Regions from separate parts of the Homo sapiens genome. Here region 1 is linked to region 2. Evidence: fine-mapped expression QTL. A gene starts in region 2. The other region holds a variant in brackets. All regions are shown on one strand. Distances are between the middles of the regions.

Region 1 (2,921 bases), 39 kb after region 2:
CGTGAAATAACTGACTTAATGTTTGAAAAGATTAATCACTCTGGCGACTGTTGCCAATACTTTTGAGCTGGGAAGCCACTGGGAGAGTTTGAGCAGGAGGGCAGCATGAAGTGACTTGGGTTTTCTGAGGATGATTTGGGCTGCTGTGTGGAATAGAGACGGTCATGGAACCAGAGTGAAGCGGCAGCATCGGGGGCTCTCAACAGTAGTGCAGGTGGTAAATGCTGGTGACGGGGAAGAGAGAGAAGGTGGTGGGAAAAAAAGGTTGAATTTAGGATAATTTTGGAAGTTGAGTTAGGGTTAAGGCCAGAAATTTATATAATTTGGGGGCCCTTATTTATGAAAAACAATAAAAAATTATGACTACAACGTTAGGTCCTAATGTGAATATGTAGAATAAGAAATCACAACAAATTATATTTTTTAAACACCACAAACATCAGAAAAATGAGATATTATTAGTTCACTGCCTGACACAGCTGTGTAATTGTGTTCCTTTATGTTTTTGGCTGCAAACTCCTTGATTGCCTTTTCATATGACCACCAACAATATCATTACATCTTTTATTACGGCTAGATGAGAAAACTTTTAGCTTCACAATTGGCTGTTGATAGTGACACATCTCCAACTTCCTCTATCTTTTCTTTAAGCAGTACTTCTCTGTAAGGAAACCCTAAGAGCAGTGCCTCTCAAACTTTAGTGTGTACCAGCATTTTCTGAAGGGCTTGTGAAAACACAGATTGCCGGGCCCCACCCCTAGAGCTGGGGATTCAGTGGGTCTGAGGAGGGGCCTGAGAATCTGCATGTCTAACACGTTCCCACATGACGCCCATGCTGCTGGCCTGAGGACTTGACTTTGAGAACCCCAGCCCTTTGATCTTCCTCAGGTGCCTCAGGTTCCCCCCCTCTACCAGGTTGTTTCTGAGTTAGGGTGGGTAGTATAGGGGTAGAGTGGCCTGGCAGCCTGGATCATGGTGGCCTGTGAGCTCGGAACGATGCAGTATCTTTTGTTCAGGTCCTTCTCCTCAAGCCTCAGGGCAGAGTCCGCCTGCTCCTTGAGGTCACCAGGGCAATAGTTTCCCTGGGCACTGAACAGATGTGAGGTGATGCTGGCAGCACCCAGGCGCCAGGATTACCGCTGCCTGCAATCCTCTGAGTCCCCAGCATGTGGTCGAGTTATGGCTCCCATTCTCCATGCTGCCCACCCCAGTGTGCAGAGGACACGTCAAGCCATGGAAAGTTAAACTTCTTTTGCTTCATGTAAATTTGCATCTGCAGCAGATCCCACGGGATTTGCTGATGGACTGGAAGTGGGATGTGAGAAAAGGAAGTGTTAAGGATGACTTCTAGGTCTGGGCCTGATGAATTGAGCGATACTGATGCCATTTCCTGACATGAGATAGAATAGTAGAATTGCAGATTGGTGGCTCATGAATTTTTTTTTTTTTTTTTTTTTTTTTTTGACACGGAGTCTCGCTCTGTCACCCAGGCTGGAGTGCAGTGGCGTGATCTGGGCTCACTTCAAGCTCCGCCTCCCGGGTTCACGCCATTCTCCTGCCTCAGCCTCCCGAGTAGCTGGGACTACAGGCACCCGTCACCACACCTGGCTA[A/AT]TTTTTTTTTTTTTTTTTTTTTGTATTTTTAGTAGAGACGGGGTTTCACCGTGTTAGCCAGGATGGTCTCGATCTCCTGACCTTGTGATCCACACGTCTCGGCCTCCCAAAGTGCTGGGATTACAGGCGTGAGCCACCGCGCCCGGCCTCGTGGGTCATGAATTTTGTCTGTATTCATTTCCGCTGGCTGCCATCATAAATTATCATGACCTTGGTAGCTTAAAGCAACAGAAATGCATTCACTCAAACGCTGGATGCTAAAAGCTCAACATCAGTTTCATTGAACCAAAATTAAGGTGTGGGTAGGACTGTGCTCCCTCTGGAGGAACTGGGGGGAATCATATTCCTTTCCTCTTCTCGCTTCCGGTGCTGCCAGCGTTCTTTCATGTGTGGCTACATCACTGCAACCTCTGCCTTTGTGGTCTCCTTGCCTTCTCTTTGGTGTGTATCAAATCTCCCCCTCCCTCTCTCTTATAAAGACACTTGTGATTGGGTTAAGGGACCATCAGCTAATCCAAAATAATCTCTCTACGCCAAGATCCTTAATTACATCTGCAAACCCTCCTTCTTTATAAAGTAACATTTATAGATTCCTGGAATTGTGCCCTATGTCTTTGGGAGGCCATTATTCATCCTACTACAAAACATTAAGTTTGGGATTCTTCTTACACATCCAAGTGGAGATTGGGAAGAATTTATTAATGAGTGATTAAGAAATAGAGCAGTAAAGAAAGGAAAGAATGTTTCCAAAGCCTCCATATGTAACAATAAAATTCTCCTTATGATCAGGGAAACTTTTAGGACAGAAGAAAATGAAAATAGGGAAAAGTTGGAGCACATGGAAAATCTAAAAGTCATTTAAATTGTGTTTGTTTAATTATAGATAAATGCATCATGCTGCCTTTCAAAGTAAGTTAGTAGAGGACAGAGATTAGGTCAAATAAACAAATTCTGTAGAAGATCTGATATTCCATAGGGATAATAAATACTGAGTGGCATTAAAAGTCAAGGGAAGTAAAGATAAAAGAATCCTAATGAGATGTATCTTACTTTCAGATTTTCTTATTCTATTTATTATTTTACCAGACACTCCTGAATTTTAAAACTAGTGTAATTATATGTAAGGAACAAAATGTCACAGGAGACAAGGTTACCTTTGAAAGTCAAAGAACTCATGTTCTGAAATGTAAGATACATAGCCTTTACCTGCAAGAGCTTTGTTCAGTATTAATGTTTGGGATCATGAAGGGAATCCGTGATACTGCCATGGTTGCTTAACTGTGTGACATGCTCTATATCCAGACCTATAG
Region 2 (2,921 bases):
GAAGTAAGTTACCATAGTAAACTAAGTAATAAAGGGTGACTAAGTAATAAAGGGCATTGCAGCTTTCTCCTTGACTTCTCTCTTGGATCACACTCTCAGCTGCCATGTCATTAGAAGAGCCGAGCTGCACTATAGAGACACAAGAGGTGAGAAACTGAGGCCTCCTGCCAACAGCCATGCAAGTGACTCATCTCGGAAGTGGATCTTTTAGCTACAAAAAGCCTTTGGGGCACTTTAGCCTTGGCTAATATTTTAACTGTAACCTCTTGAGAAATGCTGAGCCAGGATGACTCTGGCTAGCTAGACTATTGCCAAATTCCTGACCCACAGAAACTTTGAAATAACAAATGGGATAATTGATGAGGTAACAATAAATAACTAGTACAACGCTGAAAGAGGAGAAGGTATATAGGACTTTTCTCCATCAAAGGACAGAGATTATTGAATTGAACAAGGGAGTAAAGTACAAATAGTCCTGAAATTGATCCAGCCAACTTTTGATCACTAATCTCTCCCTGCAAAGGAAAGATTTAATACTTTTCAAAATTTCAATCAAGTCTTCAGTATATTCAAATTCAACTCTCTAGTATACAGATGCTCCTCAACTTACGATGGGGTTATGTCCTGATAAACCCGTTGTAAACTGAAAATACAGTAAGTCGAAAATGCCTTTAATATATCTAACCTACCAAACATCATAGCTTCACGAGGCCCTCCTTAAATGTGTTCAGAACACTTACATTAGCCTACAGTTGGGAAAAATCACCTAACACAAAGCATATTTTATAATAAAGTGTTGAATAATTTATTGACTACTGTACTGAAAATGAAAAACAGAATGGCTATATGAGTACTCAAAGTACAGTTTCTACTGTGTGTCACTTTTGCACCATCATACAGTCAAAACACTGTTACGCTGGGGCATCCTAAGTCAGCAACCACCTGTGTATATGCTCTTGTGGTTTAACGGCAGCACAGTGCTATGCTTATGAAATCACTTAGAAATTGACATTCTGTTTTAATGTGTAGTATTTCAGTTTTCAAAAAAGAATACACTTTATAATTTACAAAACTATATGGAGTCATAAACTTCATAGATTTATATGTATGCATGCATCTTTGGTTAGGGTTGTGGGTAAATTTGAAAAGCTACGCATTACCCTCAAATTTATATAAACCTCTACGTTTAACAAAGCAATTTCATATAGCTTTCATCTTGGGGCGTCCCCTTACAAAATGGATGCATGCACTTAGGTAGGGCTCACTTAACTATCTAATAATGGAGTTTTTAAATATAGACACTAGAATATATTCTGCTGTTTGTTCCAAAAACCCTCTTCTTCGTTTCTCTTATCCCACCCACGTCCGAATATAGCATGCCAAAAACAGAGCCAAAAACAAGATTGTCTGTGACATATCTGTCCTGTCACAGACAAGGACAGATTAAGAGGACCAGATCAGAAAATGTGTGTATACTAAGTAGCTCAAAGACAAGGGCAAAACTTTAACGCAAAGAAAATACATTCAGAGCTTTCCAAGTCCCAATTTCTTCTGCTTTTACAGTTCAGCCTAGTTAGTTGTCCTCCACGCCCCCCGCCCCACGCGCGTTTGCGTTTTCTTAATAAACCCACAGCAAGACCTAGGGCGGGGGTGAACCACAGCGCATGCGCCGTAGGGAGCGACCTCAACAGCTAGGGTGCTGTTTGGGCGGGGCCTGGGCGGGGCCAGACGCGCGCGAGATTTGAATTTCCTCTGCGTGCGGTCAGTGCCCGCGCAGCGTTGAGTTGCACAGCGGTATTCTCACCAGGCCCTGCAATCGGTGGGCCACAGTGCCGGCCACAGAGATGGTGGAAGGACCAGGCTGTACTCTGAATGGAGAGAAGATTCGCGCGCGGGTGCTCCCGGGCCAGGCGGTGACCGGCGTGCGGGGAAGCGCTCTGCGGAGTCTGCAGGGCCGCGCCTTGCGGCTCGCAGCCTCCACGGTTGTGGTCTCCCCGCAGGTGAGCTACTCCTGTAACAGGCCATGCAGTCAGCAGGGGGGAAATGGAATAAAGACCCCATCAGGGTTCCAGGATTTAAAGTGTCATCTCTTTGCTCTGGCCCAGGTTTCCTGGGGTCCCACCTTTCACAGAGTTTATCGTCACTTTACTGTAGGGAGAAGTCGGTCCTAGCGCGCCTGCGCAGGAGAGGAGGGCTAGCGTTCTGGGCTCACGCTGCCGGAGCAAGATGCCCTAGGGGAATCCAGTGAAGGTGTTTTATCCGAGTCACCTTACTTAACTTCTTTATGATACACACATGGTTTCCCATGTCTACAGCTGCATTTTTTACTATTGATATTATCAAATCTCTGCTACCTCTGATATGTTTTCTTCGTCCCATTTTAAGCTTTTAGCATAAAATTCTACTTTCTTGCTTGGCTAATCTGCAATTGGTAAGTATATCACAACTAGTATATAATTCTAAAACTACACGTAGAAAATTTAGCACTAACTTCTCACTCAACTTCATATTGCCATCTAATTAAGGGGCAATGAAACCCAGTTCTGGTTCCCTTAAGTGAATTTATTTCTTTTTAAAGTAAACTAGCACAGCTTCTTGCCACTCAGGCATTCATTGCAGACGATGTGGTATTCATTTGGCCAGAACTTGTACTAAAAATATTCTGATTAAGGCATCATGTTTTAAAAGCCCTCTAGATGTATGGATGATTGTATTTCATGCCTACATGCAATATTGCACTGTATTTCAATTTCTTCTGCAAAGCTTCTTATAGCCTTTGGTCCTGGAAGAAAAAGTTGCCTGCTATGAAATTAGCATATGCTTACAACTTGAAAGAAATGAGGTTCTAAGTCTAAGAAAATATATTTTCAAACTTGGGAAAAAATAAGTTTTACATCTCCTTCCAATTGCCCTTTTGTTTA

Direction of the effects. Positions count from the first base shown, and alleles are read on the strand shown. Sizes are in standard deviations (SD) of each study's normalised expression.
In carriers of allele A in region 1, the expression in monocytes of the gene that starts at base 1,765 in region 2 tends to be lower than with AT alone (large effect, 1.1 SD a copy in BLUEPRINT).

What was found. PIP is the estimated chance that this variant, and not a neighbour inherited with it, causes the effect.
Region 1: its variant is fine-mapped to the expression of NEIL3 in monocytes (BLUEPRINT, PIP 0.95).

The regions. Positions count from the first base shown.
Region 1 is chr4:177,347,423-177,350,343 of GRCh38, forward strand. All of the region lies in intron 6 of NEIL3 (nei like DNA glycosylase 3), which reads left to right. All of the region lies in intron 2 of LOC105377558 (a long non-coding RNA gene), which reads right to left. Among named protein-coding and RNA genes, the nearest start is that of NEIL3, 39 kb to the left of the region's middle. The variant A/AT (reference allele first, on the strand shown) is at 1,612.
Region 2 is chr4:177,308,110-177,311,030 of GRCh38, forward strand. It overlaps NEIL3 (nei like DNA glycosylase 3), which reads left to right and starts at 1,765. Exons shown (of 10, transcript NM_018248.3): 1 at 1,765-2,000. The coding sequence starts at 1,845. RefSeq lists a silencer at 1,646-1,765 and an enhancer at 1,846-1,935.